Regions from separate parts of the Homo sapiens genome. Here regions 1 and 3 are each linked to region 2. Evidence: fine-mapped expression QTL. A gene starts in region 2. Each other region holds a variant in brackets. All regions are shown on one strand. Distances are between the middles of the regions. Region 1 overlaps AADAT (aminoadipate aminotransferase). Region 2 holds the start of AADAT (aminoadipate aminotransferase). Region 3 has its middle 51 kb from the start of AADAT.

The links. PIP is the estimated chance that this variant, and not a neighbour inherited with it, causes the effect. A credible set is the group of variants that fine-mapping cannot tell apart.
Region 1: its variant is the best candidate, but not a certain one, in a credible set for the expression of AADAT in tibial artery (GTEx, PIP 0.68).
Region 3: its variant is the best candidate, but not a certain one, in a credible set for the expression of AADAT in prefrontal cortex (ROSMAP, PIP 0.68).

The regions. Positions count from the first base shown.
Region 1 is chr4:170,065,076-170,067,841 of GRCh38, reverse strand. AADAT (aminoadipate aminotransferase) reads left to right here. Exons shown (of 13, transcript NM_016228.4): 9 at 454-515; 10 at 1,364-1,428. It overlaps LOC107986326 (a long non-coding RNA gene), which reads right to left. Exons shown (of 2, transcript XR_001741918.2): 2 at 1,136-1,470. Among named protein-coding and RNA genes, the nearest start is that of AADAT, 23 kb to the left of the region's middle. The variant G/T (reference allele first, on the strand shown) is at 1,639.
Region 2 is chr4:170,088,893-170,091,658 of GRCh38, reverse strand. It overlaps AADAT (aminoadipate aminotransferase), which reads left to right and starts at 1,703. Exons shown (of 13, transcript NM_016228.4): 1 at 1,703-2,035. The coding sequence starts at 1,969. RefSeq lists an enhancer at 1-287 and a silencer at 2,187-2,481.
Region 3 is chr4:170,139,542-170,142,307 of GRCh38, reverse strand. No RefSeq gene overlaps it. Among named protein-coding and RNA genes, the nearest start is that of AADAT, 51 kb to the right of the region's middle. The variant C/A (reference allele first, on the strand shown) is at 1,346.

The sequences.
Region 1 (2,766 bases), 24 kb after region 2:
TAAATAGAAAATCTCCAAATATGTCATGTAACTTTACACATCTACTGTACATTTTTATATTTAGAGAAGCAGTACAGTATGGCAATTAACAGCGCGGGTCAGGAGCTGGATAGCCTGACTGATTTCAGGCTGTGGGACTCAGAAAAGTTAACTTAACCCTTGTGCCTCATTAGTAAAATAGAAATTTATAGAGATTACATTTGGTAAAATATATTAGTATCTTACAACAGTGCCTGCTACATAACAAATAGTATATCAATATTTGTTATTTTTACTAGTATTATCATTGTTATTAATTGACATTTGTTTTAAATCACTGACTATATAAGCTAGGCTCAGCTTGTTATATCTTATTGTGGTTTACATGTAATCAAAAGTGAGTTGCTTTTATATATGGCAAAAAGTACATTTTCAGGGGATGAAACATGGTATTTATGATTTTATCTCTTTTAGCTCATGATATCACAGCTTCTACACGAATGGGGAGAAGAAGGTTTCATGGCTCATGTAGACAGGTATTGTATCATTTCTTTAAATATTTATGAACAAAACAGGAGCCCAGTGAACATAGTACAGATCACCTACAGTATTGATTTATTCTTCCTTCCTAAGTATCCTCGGAAAGGAGAGACAATAGGAACGGTCTATTATAAGTCAAAAGTCTATTCATTTTGTTAGTTCTTCACCTAGCAAGTCTTCTCAGCATCCAAGGTGTGGTTTGAAAGCAGTGTCCACCCACTCCTAAGGTAGTCCAAAATTCCCACCAGGTTAAGATTTACTTACTTAAATGATGTAATGGGTAAACTTCATACATATAAATATTTTATTTAATAATGATTAATTGTGAAGGATACATGACACGGGATTTGGCTCAAGTAAAGATGAAGGTGAACATAATTTCCCTAAATAGTCTGTATATTGGTACAAGTTATGGATTACTTTAGCTGTGTAAATATGGTACCTCCTAGGACATTTAGAAATAAGGAGGAATGGGGTATTCGCATTCCCAGACCGGTGATTCATTATTTCAATAGTATTGTCTTTTATCCTGAGTGATGAGAACCAGTATTTAGACAACTAAACACAAAGATTGATCCTGCTACTTCTAGGTTCCATATTTTACATAGAAATGGACTTCTCTTTATGAATTTTTATTTTGTAATTATTCTACAATGAAGGAAAAAACACAGCAGTTAAAAGTTTTTCACCAGACAAGTGAAACAAATATGCTCCATTCTTCTATCAAGCATTCAACATTTTAATCAAGATAGAAAACAAATTCTTATAGCCTGGACTCTGGAGACTGTTTTGCTTCTGCAATCAATGTACTGAGCACATCCATTTCATTGTTTTCTTTTTCTAGGGTTATTGATTTCTATAGTAACCAGAAGGATGCAATACTGGCAGCTGCAGACAAGTGGTTAACTGGTGAGTGGAACGTATATTCGTCCTCATGATAAACAGTAGCATCTGTAAAAGTAGGGGATAAACACTGAATATTACTAACAATCCTGGTGGAAAAGAAACAGTCCAGGAGTATTCTTGCCAAGGAAACATTACACCATAAATCATCTCAGAAGCAACATTTGATAAACCTGGGCACAGACCTTCCTATCCACTTTACCTGTCTGCTGCAAA[G/T]AATTTGTGATTAAAAAAAAAAAGATCTAAAAATCAATCACTAACTTACTTAAAGCTTAATAATATCTATTTTCAAAAATTTTAGTTATTTCAGAATTTTACCCCAAAGGGTAAAATTGTCAAACCATGCTTCTCTAACTAAGCTGTACAAAGGCAGATGTCTTACTGACAAATTATTTGCCTTCTAATCATTAACCTCATTTATCTCTGTAGTATTATCTATTGCTAACTTGATTGCAAAATGTTTTAGATTCTTTTTTTATTATGAAGGTCAAATTAATCATATGGCTTTAATTATATTATTAAAATGCCTTTGATATAAATAATAGTAAACCAAAAATAGCAATTCCTTATTTCTGTCCTATCTTATTTTCTATAAAGTCTTGGTAAAAACAGAATTAGTGGCTGAGTGCAGTGGCTCATGCCTGTAATCCCAGCACTTTGGGAGGCCAAGGTGGGTGGATCACCTGAGGTCAGGAGTTCCAGACCAGCCTGGCCAACATGGTGAAACCCCATCTCTACTAAAAATATAAAAATTAGCTGGGCGTGATGGCGGGCACCTGTAATCTCAGCTACTTCGGAGGCTAAGGCAGGAGAATCACTTGAACCTGGAAGGCAGAGGTGGCAGTGAGCCAAGATCATGCCATTGCACTCCAGCCTGGGTGAGGCAAAACTCCATCCAAAAAAAAAAAAACAGAATTAGTATCTTTCTGACAATAGCATTATTTTACCACTTTGCATAATAGTACTGAAGAAAAACTTTGAATCAACAGCAAGTTCTTTTTTTAAAAAGATAGTAATTTAAATCAAAGATCATTATGCTTGTTTTTGATTTCTCTATCCTAATACTCAATGAAACGTAAAGCCCACAACTGCTTCTGGAATTCTTGAATTTTAAGTATTTCTTTTCATAATTAATTACATTCTGATAAAAACGCTAATCCACTGGACATCTAAACTATTACAAGAATACTAGGATTTGTTGTAATGCTGGAAGAATCCACAAATAATGGAAGAATCCTCTTCTAAATTGAAATAGCCATGTTTGTCTAGGTATGGTTCTAAGTGAAGGAGAGAGGAGTGGGATTTCTTGCACTACCCTAAGACTGACTACATTGTAAATACGCA
Region 2 (2,766 bases):
GGGGCCACAGGTGGAGCTGCCTGCCAGTCCCGGGCTGTGAGCCCGCACTCCTCAGCCCTTGGGCGGTAAATGGGACCGGGTGCTGTGGAGCAGGGGGCGGCACTCGTCAGGGAGGCTCGGGCAGCGCAGGAGCCCACGGGTGGGTGGTGGGGAGGCTCAGGCATGGCTGGCTGCGGGTCCGAGTCCCACCCCGCTGGGAGGCAGCTGAGGCCTGGCGAGAATTCGAAGGTAGCGCCGGTGAGCCGGCATTGCTGGGAGACTGGGCACACCCTCCGCAGCTGCTGGCCCGGGTGCTAAGCCCCTCACTACCCGGGTCTGGCGGAGCCGGCCCGCCGCTCTGAGTGCCGGCCCGCCAAGCCCACGCCCACCCGGAACTCTAGCTGGCTCGCAAGCGCCCGCACAGCCCTGGTTCCCGCCCGTGCCTCTCCCTACACACCTCCCCGCAGGCTGAGGGAGCCGGCTCCGGCCTCCGCTATCCCAGGAAGGGGCTCCCACAGTGCAGCGGCGGGCTGAAGGGCCCCTCAAGCGCGGTCAGAGTGAGCGCTGAGGCCGAGGAGGCGCCAAGAGTGAGCGAGGGCTGCGAGGGCTGCCAGCAGGCTGTCACCTCTCAATACTTCCTTTTTGTTATTTAGCTGCTAGCACAAAGATTTTACTGGGTTATCTCAGCCTTTTGCTGCCAGGACCTAGATAAAAGCAGTGGCTCCTTGACCAACCTATTAGGTAAACTTAAAAGAGAGCCATTTGGCAGTGAGTCAATAATCATCTAGGAAGTACTCAGTAAATTTGTGCTGAATGAATGAATCTGTTCATTCATTTTAATAACCATTAAAGAATTTTTTAAAGTCAAAGAGAGGTTGTCTGAAACCCTTCCCTCATTAAGTGCTCACATTAAACCTTGTACATTCCATTTTGGTGATTCAGGAAGGAGAAATTGCAGAAAAGTTGAGGGAGGTGGGGAGTAAGAAGGGTTATTTTGTAAGAAAAAAAAAGGCAAGGTGCTAGACCCAAAAAGATCCGGATATTCACTTCCAACATAATTCTTATTTAACGAAAGGTCAGAAATTCAATGTGAGGGTAGACACTAAAATTGAAGAGACTCAGAGTGATTTTTCAAAAATTTTTGTCAGAACTCCATCGTCACTCCAAAATGCTGAGATCTTCGAGAAAGTGATGTTGAAATTCGTCTTGGTCGCCGGGATGCTTCCCAGGAGAGTGCCCAGAGTTTCACTAACGAAAGATGGGTATTTAGCATAGCCATGGTCTGAGCGGGCAAAATGCACAGTCCCAGTGACTGAGAGGAGGCCAGCGGAGCGCGCGGGAACGAGGGTGGGGCCGCTCCCGGCTGGGCGCAGCTCGGGAGCCCCCTGCAGTGGACCCAAGTCGCCGCCAGATGGTTCCCGAGGATTAGGATCACGGGCACTTCCGGTCCCCTCGGTCAGCCCCTGGGCTAGCCTCTGGGCCGGCGCCTAGGCCGGCCAACGCGGACGCCGGGTTGCGGTGATTCCCAGCGGCGAGGTCAAGAGTCATTGGCCTGGGGCTGCAAGCGCCTCGCGCCTGGGCTACCCCGCGCCCTGCGCTCTGAGGGCGATGATCCGGGACGGGGAGGCGCGCGCCGCGGGCGGCCATAGGCCACGGCGCGGGGCGGGAGGGGGCGCGGCGAGGCCCGCGGCGGGGCAAAACCGGCCTGGGCCCTGGCGGCCGCAGGAGCGCGTGCGGCGTGGACTTTGCCGGGCTCGCCACACAGCCCCAGACCCGTTTAGGACCGGGAGACCGAACGCAGCGTCCAGCCGGGGAGTTTCGGCGGCGTTCTCCGGGCACCGCGCGCGGGAAGCCAGACGCAGCGGGGGGACACATCTCGCGGTGGCGTTGCCAGAGTGAGGAGTTAGCAGGCAGGACTTGACGAGGCTCTTTGGTTTTTCTAGTCCTCAACCACTGAAGAAGAAGCTTGATGCTTGGCTGTCAGAAGACATGAATTACGCACGGTTCATCACGGCAGCGAGCGCAGCCAGAAACCCTTCTCCCATCCGGACCATGAGTGAGAAACGGGGTGACCATCTCTCCTTTGGGGTGGGGCATTCCTCGCACAGCCTCTAAGGAGGGTTCCCTAGCAAGCCACCGCTTGGTTGCATCCATGCGTACCCCTGTGCACGCTCGCGGTGAGCCAGGCTCTGCGTGCAGAAATGAAATAGACACAGCCTTTGTTCTCAAAGAACTCGGGCTGAAACGGAAGGCGGGTATTTCTGCTGGAGCAGAGTAGGAGCAACAGTAGAGAGAGGCGCAGACTGCTGTGGGGCACGGCCTTGGAAGGGAGGGGGCGTGCTATCAAGAAAGGCTCTTCCTGGGAAGCTGAGAAGGGGCATGCACAGCGTGCAGATGGGTGTACAGTGGAGAGGGCCAGGTAAATGGGAGAGGGGTGGGCCATGAAGCTCACAGACAGGTCGGGGCTAAGTGGAGGAGGGCTTCTGCTATTGTGGCCCTTTGCTGTCTTTCTGATCCCTCTGCCTTCTCTTTGGTCACCTTCATTCTTTAGTCCCTCCACAAGTGAGGTGCCTAGAAAAAGTTATTCTGTATGTTTATTTTAGACTAGCTTTTGTCTTAGTCCATTCAGGCTGCTATAACAAAATACCACAAACTGGGTAATTTATGAACAATAGAATTATTTCTCACAGTTCTGGAAGCTAGGAAGTCTAAGATCAAAGTGCCAGCAGCTTCTGTGTCACCATGGTGAGAGCCCTTCCTTATAGACAGAGCCATCTTGCTGCATCC
Region 3 (2,766 bases), 51 kb before region 2:
GCCTAACGAGATAGAAGGAACATGAGCTGTGCTCTAATTCTGCAAAAATTGTAACCAATATGCTTTCAGTTGTTGGGGTGGATCACATATTTACGATGGAGGTGCTTCTCAGATACATGAGAATCTCTCAAGTATCAAATCAAGTAAAAAATTACTCTTGGATACAGTTTTTGTTTTGTTTTGTTTTGTTTTGTTTTGAGACAGAGTCTCACTCTGTCATCCAGGCTGGAGTGCATTGGTGAAATCTCGGTTCACTGCAACTTTCACCTCCCAGGTTCAAGTGATTCTCTGTCTCAGCCTCCCAAGTAGCTGGGATTACAGGTGCTCGCCACCACGCCCGGCTAATTTTTTTGTATTTTTAGTAGAGACAGGGTTTCACCATGTTGACCAGGCTGCTCTTGAACTCCCGACCTCAGGTGATCCACCTGCCTCGGCCTTCCAAAGTGCTGGGATTACAGGCATGAGTCACTGCACCCGGCTGCAGAAAACCTCTTTTAAACATTCCTATGGATAACCCTAAACACTGCAGTGGATTCACGAAAAATATTATAGAATGAAAGAACTGTATCATTACTTCCCCTCATGCAACCGGTTCCAAAACTGTTACCTAATGCAGGTAAACAAATTCAATGCTGAATTCACTTTGAGTGATAAAGGGAGAAAGAAAGTCAATGGATGGATAGGGTGGTTTTGTTTGGTGATCTTAAAAGTGTGTGACTATCCTCATGAATAAAAAGGCTGACAAATGTAGCCAATATGTCACACTGTAGACAGGCTATTCTTAGCTGGAATCATGAAAGTTTAAGATATTCTTGCTCATGAAGACTTCTCTGTCTAGTTATTTTCAGAATAAATAAGGCTGCCTTAAGCCTGTCAATGTCAAAAATACAGTTTCCAAAGAGACAAAATGAAAGTTCAGGATTCAGGCTGTTGCTATTTTAATGATCTTGATAAGCTGATCTAGAACTCACAGAGAGAGATTTATGCCTTACCTATTTAACCATGTCTCACTGTAATACCAAATATTGTGTTTTGAACTATTATATTCTGTTACGTTTTTGCTTGTTTTTGTTTTGTCATACTTCTAATGTTAAGATTCAACAATGCTGTTAAACAGAAAAACCTTAGACCAAATTTAAATTTAACTGACTTTATTTGAGCAGAGGAAAGCAAAGCAAAGTAAAAACAGAATGAAAATGATTCACAAATCAGGCAGTCCTCTGAACCAGGGCAGGTTCAGAGAACTCCAACTAATAACATGATCTGACAGCATTTATAGGAAACAGAAGTACGGTGTACAGAAAACTGAATTGGATACAGCTTCATTGGTTAACTGGCTACGGAG[C/A]GTCCTGCAGTAACTAAAGCTCAGCTCCTGGAGTTCAACTTTATGTTGGTTTGGTCTGTCAGGCCTAGTGCAGGAACCTAGTTTATTTTGGTTAACAATACTAAAGTTATATATATATATATATATATATTATATATATAGTGCTTAATGTTTATCTCTATCACACTTCTTTTAGAGTTTGGTTCATCTTTCTATCATGTTAGGACCGCTTTCATCTGATTCTGTCATTTAGGGTTTTTTTTCATGAACCCTCTTAACTCTGTGTCATCCACATGTTTGGTGAGTGTGTCCTTCATATCTTTATCCAAATCCCTGATGAACGTATTGAACAGAATACGGGCCACAACAAGGCTCTGATATTTACCAGCAGAAAACATATCAGATTAGCAATGTGTGGTTCAATGTTCAGCCAGAAACTCATCAAGCTAATAGTATTACGATCCAACCCATAATTCTTCCTCTGTGTGATATCATATAACATCAACAAAAGACTTTACAGATGATATTGGACTTTTTCAAGAAATTAAGAAAGTAATCTTTTTGTTTCACACATAAACCAATGAACTCAGAAGTCAGAAATGTATTAAAACAGAGTTGAGCCCTACCTTAAGAGTAAAGGGACTTACAAAACCTTATTTGCATTTACTGTCTCAAGTAGGGAAATACTTACCCCAATGTATTCCCCTCCTGACCTGACACTTTATCATGGACCCATAGTATCCATTCTGCCCCATAAACAGGAATCAGACATAAGGAATCAAGTCTTATTCATCTCTATTTAGTCTACAATGCCTAGCATAGAATTTCATACACGATACTGTGGAGTTTACTTCATGACTTTCTTAGGTTAGGATGGTCCTAGCAAAACAGAAACTTCTGCCACACTGCTCATCCCATTAGAAGTCCAGTGGTCACTCGAGTTTACTATTTCATATGGTATTGCAGAAAGGAAACCTAGACATAGGTTTGCCAAAATATGTGTCATGCTCAAGGCATGGCGCAGAACACAGATTCCCCCATAACCAGATGATGAGGTAATTGGCTGATAATATCTCTGGGTGTAGGCAGGGATGTTGCTACTACTAGGCAGTCAATATCTTAGTCATTGATACTAGCTGTTATTGACTTTGAATGAAGCACGATCCTCCATTTAATAAAAATAATGACTATTTAATGAGGACAGCTGGCCCAGCTAGGTCATCCCTGAGCCACAGGTTTGGACACAAAGAATACACCCATTCCAGGTCATCAACCACGCTCAGACCTCTCAGGGGCATGAATACAGGCTCTCCCTAGCCAAGTCCATCCTTTTGCTGACTTCGTCCCCTCTTTAGTAGTCTCTTCCTGCTCTGCCCAAACTCTCATTATCCCTTCCATGCAAAAGACCTCATTCTCATTCTGCTTCTTTTCTCACAATAGAA